2 separate regions of the Homo sapiens genome follow, and region 1 is linked to region 2. The links come from fine-mapping of genetic effects on gene expression. Tissue or cell type: spleen. Region 2 holds a variant in brackets; the other region holds the start of a gene. All regions are shown on one strand. Distances are between the middles of the regions.

Region 1 (6,387 bases), 41 kb after region 2:
ACCAGGGTCCAGAGGCATTGTCTAATGGGGGAAGATTAAACATAGACAAATACTAAACAGGCTATTAAGTAGCATTTAGCAGGACAAGTGATACTGATTCACAGATACTTGAAACATGTAAACACCATTTAAAAAGTATAAACACCTACTAGACTGGCAGGGCTAAAATGAGATTGGTTAAGAGAACCGATATTATCAGAGATTGTCTGGGAAACAGGCAGTACTGTATAGCCAGCAGATGACGGGCTCACACCTTGGCTCCAGCACTTATAAGCTGGGGTGGGGTGGAAGGAGGAAGTCAGTCACAGTGGCAGAGTGCCTGGTACCATAAAAAATCAGGAGTCAAGAGATCTGAGTTCCAGGAACAATTTCATCTATTGTAACCTTAGACAAATCACAACCACATGAGGCTTCAATTTCCTCTTCTGTAAAACGGGGATTAGCATTCTGGCCTTCCCTGTCTTGTGGCTTTTGTAAAAATATACTACCCACCTGACCACTGCTGCCCATTTTACTTAAAAGGATAAACATTGTTCAGAGCCCAGATCATACCATGGAAGGTAAATGACAATAGTAGTTTTTTTTAATCCTAGAGTCCATAAACAGCTTTCAGATTCACCTCTGCGTATCCTCACCACAACCATGGGGGAGTCATTAGAATAGATAAGAGTGTACCTATGTTAAAGTTGAGTAAACTGGAGGCTGAGGGAAGTTACCCAATGTTCCATGATTTGAACCATGTGAAAGCCAGTAGTGAACTTGAGTATCCTGGCTCCTAGTTGGTCAGTTTCCACTATGTCTGGGAAGCTGAGAGTATTGAGGAAAAGTCAGCCATACTGACCCCATGTGACACTTGGGAGGCATTCTGCCACATCTAGTTTCTACAATTCCTTTGGAAAAAAAAAAAAAAACACTTCCTTTTGTCCCTGAAAAAGCTCTGTGTCCACAGAAGTGTTCATGCCTACCTTCCTCTCCTCTAAGTCAAAAGAGTTCAACACAATCACCAGCTGCTACAGCAGCCTCCCTGGGCTTATCACCTCCACCTCCATAACAATCACGAGAATGGCTGGAACATCTGCAAACATTTTATATATTTTTTGTAATTTTTTTTATTTTTGTAGAGACAGAGTCTCACTATGTTGCCCAGGCTGATCTCGAACTCCTGGACTCAAGCAATCCTCCCACCTTGGCCTCTCAAAGTGCTAGGATTACAGGAGTGAACCACCACAGTCGGTCCTGCACACTTTTAAAACATCTCCTCCTCTAGTTGTTGGGCCTGCCACAGTCTGTCATAAGTGAAATGCCCATGTTCCAGGTGGCTGAGAACAAGTTTCTCTGGTTTGCTGTGTCCCCAGAGTCCCAAAAGGAGACACACACATTTCCCTCTCCCCAGTGCCAGGTCACCCCCAGGTCTTCCTCCTCCTCCTTTTCCACCCATCTTTCTCATCTCTAACTTGATCCAGCCCCTGGGATCCTCATGCACAAGGCCTCTGGGTTAGCCTCTCCCAGGAGTGGGGCATGGGTCAGCATCCCTCTGTCTGCCACCTCAGCATCCCCATCTCTGGGGCTGGCAGAGGCTGTGGCTTTCCCACTCCACACCATTTCTTTCCCATCTGAAACTGGATGACTAAAAGGTAGGACAGTAGTCACCTGCTAGAGGCTCATCTCCCAAGCCCCAGAGCCCTCCCTGTAGCTCTAAGCAGCCGCTTTCCTGCCCCTTACACTTTCCAGCGGTCTCTTCAAACCCCCACCTTCCTTCTCTGCTCACAGGCTCAGGTATCCTCCTTGGTCCTTCCTGGCAGGCTGCCCTGGGCACCCTTCTCACTTCTGCTCATCCTTGCTTGCCCTCCTCCCTTCATGCTGTGCCTCTGAGTGCTTCTAAAGTGCTTCCAAGTCATTTCCTCTCCCCTCCACCGACACTTAAGCCTACTGCCCCTTGCAGCTCAGCGAGGCCATTGCTCCTCCTCTGTGCGCACCCTCCCCACCCGCATCCCAGAACCCGCTGCATACCCACAGTCCGACGGCCATCACTACCACGAAGTAGATAACGATGATGGAGATATCGGCTGCATTGCGAATGAGCTCGTGGGTCTCAACAGGCCGGGTGACCGCGGTGGTCTTGGGGCTCCAGGTGCTACTGTCCATGGTGGCAGCGTTGCGTCCTTCCCTCTCGCCAGGGCCGCTAGCTCCTTATACGGCCTCCTGGTTAATGATCAGCACCAGGGGAGGGGACCTGGGACTTTGAGGGAGCAGGGCAGTAGCGCGGGGCCCCTGCGATGCCTTGCGGCTGCACCGTCAGGAAGCAGCTCCGGGCGTGGAGCCCAGGAAGGAGCACCCGGCTGAGCTGTTGGCTGGGGCGGCGGCCCGGCAGGTAAGAGCTGTCCTGCGAATGGGGAGGGGCCAGCCAGGGGGTGGTGCCCGCCTGGCACAAAGGCCCACTGTACTCCCACAGCAGGCACCAGCAGCGCCACCACACCTGCCCTTGCCAGAGCTGGAGTGGCTCCATTGAGGGAACAGGCCACCTGGGGCTAGGAGCCTAGAGGCTTCAGATCACCTGCCACCCATCCTTGGACTAGTCCCATGCCTTCTAAGGACTTGGCTTGTCCGCTTGTAAAATGGGTGCAGCACTCTTCTGAAGAATCAGTCAAGTCTTGTTCTCCCTGGAGAACATTCTTGAGAGGACAGAGAGTTGCTGGGTGTCACTGGAAAAAAACCAGCACAATCCTAATCTCTTGGCCACAAGGACAGCCACCCACCCACCCACATTCCTGACTCCCCCTCCACAGCCTGCAGCCCCCAGGTCCACTGTTACCCCCACTGTAAAGAGGAAGAAACTGAGACTGGGGGAAGGGATCTCACCGGGAGCTATTTCCTTGCCCTGTCCCTCTCCCAGTATTGATGCAGGGCCCTCCAGAGGCAGCAGAAGGGAAGATACTAGAGAACCCTTTCCAAGGAGTTCATCAAACCCTGACCTTCCTGGGGACTCAGCTCACCCATCTGGAAACACATGTCTAAACAGCAAGCCAGGGCTCAGAACAGAGATGACCAAGAGAGGAGGCATGACTTGCCCAAGGTCATACAGGAAACCAGCAGCAGAGCTGGCCCTGCAGCCCATGCCAGGGTTCAGAGGGAGGGCTGTGGGGTATTCTCAGGGGCTGGCTCTAGAGGCCACAGAGCAGCCAAAAGTGACTGTTCCCAAAGAGGGGGGCCTTGCTCTGATGGGGAGGTGCAGGGAGGCAGAGGACCACAGAAACCCTGCCAGGACTCTGGTCTGCCTCAGGCCCTCCCTGCCCACTGCTAGACAACCACCCACTGCCTAAATGTGAGCATCCTGTTCCTTTGCACTCAATGCTTCAGAGGTCTGCCTCCCCTCCTTCCGTATCAGCAACTGTTCTTCCCACTGAAGCTGCAGACAAAGAATCATTATTTGGACAGCATCCCCACAGGTCTTCCCCATTTCCCCCACACATCCCCCAGGACTGCAAACTATATAAGGCTATGTCCTGGGGCCAGTATAATGCCTGCCCAAAGGAAGCAGGAATTCTTACGAGGAACCTGAAAGCAGGGGCTGTCTGCTGTGGATGCCTCCCAAGACTTAGAGCTCAGCTGTCAGCTGCAGCTTGGAGCAACTCGCCTTTTGCCTGTGTTCATTCATTCCTGCATTCAGCCAAGTTTTTTCACCTGAATGTATCCCAGGAAGAGTCCCTGCCCTTAGGAAGCTTCTGTTCTAGTCTGGAAGTGAACCCACCCACAGGAAAAGTCCAGCCCTGAACCCAGGTGCAGGTGCAGGCAGCCAGGCCATGCCAAGTTCCAAAAGTACAAGGCATAGAAAGTGAAGCGAGCAGGAGAGAGAACTGGAAGTACTAAAGGACTTCAAAGGAGGGACAGAGCCATTCTTTGATCTTTTAGGAGAGCCAAACATAAATGGGAAAAGAAAGGAAAGGATGGTGCCCAGGTAGAGGTCAGAAAATGCATCCATTCATTCATTCATTTATTCTTACAACAAAAGAGCAGCTTCTATGTGCCAGATCATATGTACCGACCCTGGAATACAGCTATGAAAAGACACAGAGCTCTTGCCCTCACAGAGCTTCCTGACCAATGACAGAGATAGATCAGCATCAAAGATGAGACAACTACCTGTGAAATTACCATTGTGACACATGCTTTGAAGGAGAAATACTAATACCCCAAATGCCTACCAAGGAATTCAACCTGGGGATAAGGTGAGGTTAGAGTAAGTTCTGTGAAAGCTCTGGTTTGAGCAGGGACCTGAAAGAAAAGGAGGAATAGGCCAAGTAAGCTGGGAGTGAGGGACATTCCAGGAGATGACAAGCATGAGGAGTAAGGAAGGGGTTACAATATTTAGGGAGGGACTAGCTGGGGCTACAAATAAACATATATAAAAAGCATGTCACCTGTAAGAAACTCCCTACCACAGTCATTCCCCAGGCTGCCTGAGGCCCTTTTGCCATCTCTCTTCCTCATTGGTCTCTTCTAAAGGGACACTTCAAACCCAATTTCCCCTGAATGGATGCTTCTAGGAGAACACAGTGTGATGCCCACCTGCTCCCATGCAGCTGGCCTGAGCTGCTGGGTCACTGCTCACTGGTAGGATCCTGTTGGACTCTCTCTTGCCGTCATTGGTGCCAATCAAAACCAGGATCTGGTCACTAAAGGGGCCCTTGTTAGCAGAACACCCGAGAAAGAAAAAAGCCAGCCAGACACTCAGGCCGCAGGAAAGATGAGGCTGATAAGGAAAGACAGAGCTGAGAGCAGGAAGCAGCCCCCTCCCTATCCAAGTATACATAGGTTTACAATCAGTGGTCAGACAAGGATTCCACATTTAAAAATAGATGCCCACAGAGCCACAGCCATACCTGACTGTCAGAAAAAGAACAAATATTCAAATGACTCTGAGGTCACTAGTGTCTACAGATGGCAGGGAGAACCCAGCATTATGCAGGGTAAGGACTCATCACTATGTGGGAACTGTCCTGTCTCCTCTTCCTCCTTCCACACTCATCTGTCCAGGACCCTTGGGGGTTCCACCTCTCCTACCAGCCTGGGAGCTTCTCCCCAGGAGACCCAATGGTACAATGTCCACCTCTCACTGGCTAAACTGTGCTTCTTGGCAAAGGACCCCACAGTGGAATGGCCAGCTCCTGAACTCTTGCCACACAAAGAAATCAACAGCCTAAGTGCAGAGTCTGTGAGTTTTGGGAAGTAAGGGGCTGAAGAGAGAACCTACTTGGCTAGTTTGATTCTCAGCTCAGCTACCAACAAGCAGTAGACCATTGACAGCTCACTTGGCATTTGCAACCCTCTCTTTGAACATCTGTAATACAGCATTGACAGCAATGACTCTCTCAAATGATGGGTGTGAAGGGGCCTCATTGACAATGAGACACCAGCAAAGATGAGGGATGAAGAGAGCTGCTATAATTTTTTCTTCTTTCCCTTTTTTTTTTTTTTTTTTTTTGCTGTTGTGCCAGATTTATTGAAAATAATACAGCACTGCAGAAAAAATTCAAACAGGTCCCCGAGGCATTTTGAAGTTCATCCCAACTGTAGGCTGAGTGACCTGCAGGTTGGACAGACTGCCGAAGTCCAAAAGCTTCAGCATTTCCTTAGTGTCAGGATCTACTTCAATTATCTCCTGATCCAAGGCTGAGACCTCAGGAACATAATTGTCTCTCCTTTCTCTCTCCTCCTCCTGCAGCTTGATGGAGATACCTCTTACTGGGCCTCTCTGAATCCATTTCATCAGATGCGTGACATAGCCTGCTATCTTGTTGCGGAGCTTCTTGCTGGGGATAATGGCGATCTCCTTGCACACGCGCTTGTTCGTGTGGAAGTCGTTGCCCAGGCGTGTGTAGTACTTTTCTATGATGACCCGGGCCGCCTTCTTCACGGTTTTGGTGCAAACGCGGCACATGTTGGCGGGTCCTTGGTAAAAGAGCTCTTTCCCTTTTTCTCATTGGGAGTTCAGTTGTGGAAAGCCCAGAGAAGCAGGCTATCGATTAGCATACAGTCACGTGTCACTTAACAACAGGATATGTTCTGAGAAATGCGTCATAGGAAGTTTCACCCTTGTGGGAACATCACAGAGTGTCTTTACACAAACTAGATGGGATAGCCTACACACCTAGGCTGTATGGTATAGCCTGTTGCTCCTGGGCTACAAACCTGTACAGCAGGTTACTGTAGTGAATACTGTAGGCAACTGTAACACAATGGTAATGATTTGTGTATGTAAACCCAGAAAAGTTACAGTAAAAATACAGTATAAAAGAAAATAAATGGAGCCAGGAGCAGTGGCTCATGCCTGCAATCCCAACAGTTTGGGAGGCCAAGGTGGGAGGCTTGTTTGAGCCCAGGAGTTTA
Region 2 (5,000 bases):
CTGACTAAGGAAGAAAGACAATTTCTAGGCAACGGAGGAAAGAAATCAAAGAAACATTCAGGGTGGAAGGATGACAGCAAGAGATTAAGCAACAATTGAGCAAATATTATTAGGGAGAAGTGACCTGGAGGCATGTCATAACTTTAGAAGATTTGAAAAAAAAAAAAAAAAAAAAGGAGGAAACAATTGTCGACATAAGAAACCAGGGAAGACAACTCCAAAAGTTCCCTCAAGTTGCTCACTGTCTAGCACAGGAGCAATAATGCTTGGATATGACCATAACAAATAAAGAAGAGGGCCAGGCGTGGTGGCTTATGCCTATAATCCCAGCACTTTGGAAGGCCAAGGCAGGAGGATCACTTGAGGCCAGGAGTTCAAGACCAGCCTGAGCAACATAGCAAAATCCCATCGCTACAAAAAAAAAAATTAAAAATTAGGCAGGCATGGTGGTACATACCTGTAGTCCCAGCTGCTCAGGAGGCTGAAGCAGGAAGGTCACTAGGGCCCAGGAGTTAGAGTTGGAGACTGCAGTGAGCAATGATCACACCACTGCACTCCAGCCTGGGTGACAGAGTGAGACCTGGTCTCAAAAAAAAAGAGGAGGAAGCGGGAAGCTATAGAGCTTTAGAAGTGACTTGGAGACAGAAAAAGGGAGAGTGGTTTGTGGGTCCAGCAGAAGTTATTACCTGTGTACAGAATGCGGCTGATCATTCCTGGCATCACCATGATGAACATGGGCATCAGCTTTAGATACCCACACAGGATGCAGCCACCCTTCACGTGAGACATATTCTTGGCTGAGAGGCAGCGCTGCACAATGACCTGCCAGAAAAAGCCCAGTAAGGGAGGTGTGCAGACCAGAGACCCTGTGACACCTTTGTACTTCCTAGCTTCGCCATCTTGGGTCATTGGCCTGGCACTGCTGTATCACTGGGGCGTGGCAACTTACAAACCACCTGAGCTCTCCCCTCCCTGTCCCAACCCTGCAAACCACAGACAGACAGGAGTTCCTGTAGGGCCCTGGAGAAGACTCTGTCCATCCCGCACATCCAGCTTGGGTACCTGATCTGTGCACCAGTACCACAAGGTAAGGATGGACATCCCAAAGATGAACCCAGGCCATGGGAGGTCTCCCGTGAGGGGATCTCGGAAGATGTGGAAGGAGTCGGCCCTTGGAGTGTAGCATTTTTCCTGAAAGGTGGTGTTGCCATCAGACACTATGGTTGGAATGGCTTTCATGTACTTTTCCATGAAGGCGTCATAGCCTCCCACTTCGTGAAAAGCTGGAAAACATCGGTACAGAAATGAACATTCTGAAACCTTCAACTCGTCATAGCAGCTTCTTTCCATAGATGCCTGAGAAACTGAGAGGACCCAACCCACAGACAGAGCCCTCACTGAGTGGCCTTGGGCAAATCACCTTCCCATTCTGGGCCTCAGCTTTGTCATCCATAGAATGAGATTAGTAGCCCTGCCCAGCCCCCTTGGGGGCTATTATGGGGACCAAAGCAATCACTTGTAAAAGTACTCCAACTGTAAACCTCTTTGTAAAAGGGAAGGGACTTTTATTAATCAAAGAAAGACCTTGGTTTGGGACCACATACAAAGACTCTGTTTTTTCCCTCACCCTCTGCTGTCAGCCATGGCCTTTGGAGCCTTGGACTCAGGCCTAGAGACACACAGACCTAGACACACACAGTGGCCTTTGGGACCTCAGACCCACACCTACCACTCCTGGACCCAGCATGTGGTGGGATGGACAGGGAATGGGTGAGGAATCCAGAACCTGCCACCTCTCAATTGTGTGTCCTTGAATAAGTCATTCCACTGCCTGCCTAGCTAACACCCAAGGCCTGCTGGGGAGAACCAAATGAAAGTCCTTAGAAAACAGAAGAGTGGAGAGCAAATACAAGTTTTTGCAGGATACACAGTGGGCCTTGAGCACCTAGAAATAAAATGTACTTTCTATCCTCCCATAATAAGTACCCTTACCTAGGTTCTCCAGTCTCATCTTTAAGATTTCATAGACAAGTAAAATTGCAAAAAAAAAAAAAATTAATTGGAGGGCCAACCCTGAGGAGCCAAGTTTTTAATTTTGCCAAATAGGGGCATTAAAAGGAACATTATCACCCACTATCAACAATTCATAAAAGAAAGGATATTTGACATCAAAATGTAGATAAGATATAGCCTAAGATGGAAGACGCAACATTTGACTAGATTTAGCTTGATGGATATTTAGCCTTATCCTTTTTTGTCCAGTTTCTCTGCAAACAGAACACCATGTTATCACAGGCTCACAGCACAACCACTAGCCCAGACTGGTGAGAGAGGGCAGCAGAAAATCCAGGACCAGCCCCAGCTTCAGTCTTCCAGGGATAAGGAAGCTGACCCTGCATACCCACAATGACAGCCCATCTGGGCTGGACCCTCCGTTTGGAAGGGCAGAGCATGCCTCAGCTCACTGCCTAGTCTGGCAAGCAGGTAGAGAGGCTGGACTTGCCTTCCTCTTCCTGAGGCCCTCTACCTCTGCTCCCACCTCCTCAGCCTGCCCTGGCCCCACTTACCAAACCCAGTCAGGATTAAAGACCCCACCAGCATGATCACCGTCTGCAAGGTGTCCGTGTAAATCACCGCCGCCAGGCCCCCTAAGCAGGCAAGAAGACAACACATCTGACCTCGTGTGGAGGGTGACCTGTCTACTTGCTTCCTTCCCCACTCTCCACCCTCTACTTC[T/CT]GCTGGCCTTCTGAGAACATCCCCACAGTGGTTTGCCTGCCTCTCCTTCCTTCCCTCCCTTGTCCTGTTACAGTATTTTGCTATTCAGCATGTTCCCACAGCTCCACCTGTCATAGAAGTGGCGAATGTTTCTCCCTACTTGAGGGGAAAGAGTCTGGTGTGACCCTTTTGAGCCAGAAGATGGCTCAAAGGAGATGACTCCTCTGTGGTAAGAAGAAGCGTCTTCCACACACAAGGCAGGGAGGAGCAAAGAGCTGGCTGTGGAGATGGTGGGACATATGTCTACCTTTTTCTTAGTCCCCAAAGCTGTGGGGCTGCAGTCAAGCAGCAAGTTCTAAAGCTGATCCCTCCCACCCCCACCAAGGAGGCAGAGTGACCCCTCTGCAAAGGAGCCCCAATTGCTATTTATGCACCAGCTTCTTGGGTGGCCACTTGAGTCCTCTTCTGAAACCTCTGTGTGTGAGTCACTGCCTTTCTCCCTCCTTACAGGGGCTCCCAGTCCCTGACACATCAAATCCAAGGCCTCTGCCTGGCTTTCCAAACCCCAGTATACTGTGTTCAAAACACACAGTATGCTGTGACCTCATCTGAACTATCAAGCTATATGGTCCCCACAAACCCCCACGATCCTTCAGTGGCCACCCTCCTCCAGCCAAGAGCATCTGCGTGCCCACCCTGCCTCCACTCCCCTGTGCTCACTTATTTCTGCACCTGCCACTGCTCTGATTCTCCCACCTTAGCTAAGTCATCTCCACAACCCACAGGGCCCAGCTCTGCATGCACTCCTGTGAGAAGCTGCCCTGACTATCCCAGCCAACACCACAGCTTTCTGAAACCACTTGTATAACTTGGAGGGTCTATGAGTTGGTACTAAGCAAATACCTCACTCCCAAACTCTTACCTGAGTGTATCTCTCCTCAAGAAGAGAAACCACCTCTCCTACTTCCCTTTATCCTTCACTAGTGCCTGATCCCGAGCTGGGTTTGAGGTGCTGGTTTATTTGAATGGACTCACCTGTAATTGTGTAAAGGGCAGTGATTGCCAATAAGAGAAAGATGGCTAAATACAGATTCAGGCCTAAGGCCAGATTGATGAATATGGCCCCCGAGAAGATGTCTGCCTGGAAGGAGAGGAGAGGCGGAGTTAGGAGGGAGAGTGGTCAGCTGCCTACAGGGCCTGTAGTCTCTCTACTCCTGATTTTCCAAGCAAGCTTTATTCAAGATGATAATACGTATTCCATGAGAAAAAGAATTCCATGGTCAAAAAGGTCTATAAAATGCTAAACAGAATTAAGGCAGTTTCTTTGCCACACAACTTTTCTGAGCCTTTAATATATGCCATGTACAGTCATCCCCAGGGAGGGAACACGGTACATGACATCTCACAAACTCACTCAACTATTGAACTCTTTTTGCCAAGGAACAGCTATTAACACTTAGAGGTTCCTTGCAAGTCACCTGTAGACTGTTGCTCTGAGCTATTGTCCATCTTTTGCACCTCAGTGTACACAGGTTTATCAGAGCTCGTCCCCAAAAGCAAGTCTGAGTGCTGGAGAGTCCATAAGTGAGAAACCCCACCCCCACCCAGGAGCGGGGAGAAACTTAGCAAGTTTGTAATTTTAACTCCCCAACCCGGATGCAGTCCATCTTGACTCAGACACAACCAGAACATCACCAAGCACCTCTTACATAGCAGGCTTGGTACTTGCTGGTTTTATTTAGATTATTTCATGTAATTTCTGGGAGAATTGCTCCCTCCTCACTCCTGAATTCTTGATGCAGTTCTTCCATCTTCACCCTTTCTCCTCCTTCCTGTCTCTTTCAGCCTTCTCCTAATGAACCTTCTACCTGGCTGGATGGTGCAGTTGCTCATATAAACCAGCAGAGAGCACCAGGGTCACCCCAAATGCATGTTCATGTCATCTCCAAAACAATACCAGGGAGGGTAGTATTAAGGGATGATCATGGTGAGTCTTTTTTATTTATTTATTTTTTGACAGAGTCTCACTCTGTCGCCCGGGCTAGAGTGCAGTGGTGCGATCTCAACTCACTGCAACCTCTGCCTCCTGGGTTCAAGCGATTCTCCTGCCTCAGCCTCCTGAGTAGCTGGGATTACATGTGTGCACCACCACACCCAGCTAATTTTTGTATTTTTAGTAGAGACAGGATTTCACCATGTTGGTCAGGCTGGTCTCGAACTCCTGACCTCGTGATCTGCCTGCCTTGGACTCCCAAAGTGCTGGGATTACAGGCGTGAGCCACTGC

Direction of the effects. Positions count from the first base shown, and alleles are read on the strand shown. Sizes are in standard deviations (SD) of each study's normalised expression.
As copies of T replace CT in region 2, the expression in spleen of the gene that starts at base 2,166 in region 1 goes down (large effect, 1.1 SD a copy in GTEx).

What was found. PIP is the estimated chance that this variant, and not a neighbour inherited with it, causes the effect.
Region 1: it holds the start of SLC5A1, and the variant in region 2 is fine-mapped to the expression of SLC5A1 in spleen (GTEx, PIP above 0.99).

The regions. Positions count from the first base shown.
Region 1 is chr22:32,039,040-32,045,426 of GRCh38, reverse strand. It overlaps SLC5A1 (solute carrier family 5 member 1), which reads right to left and starts at 2,166. Exons shown (of 15, transcript NM_000343.4): 1 at 2,011-2,166. The coding sequence starts at 2,145. It also overlaps the pseudogene RPS17P16.
Region 2 is chr22:32,080,722-32,085,721 of GRCh38, reverse strand. It overlaps SLC5A1 (solute carrier family 5 member 1), which reads right to left. Exons shown (of 15, transcript NM_000343.4): 6 at 3,751-3,856; 7 at 2,568-2,648; 8 at 1,063-1,283; 9 at 687-822. Among named protein-coding and RNA genes, the nearest start is that of SLC5A1, 40 kb to the right of the region's middle. The variant T/CT (reference allele first, on the strand shown) is at 2,737.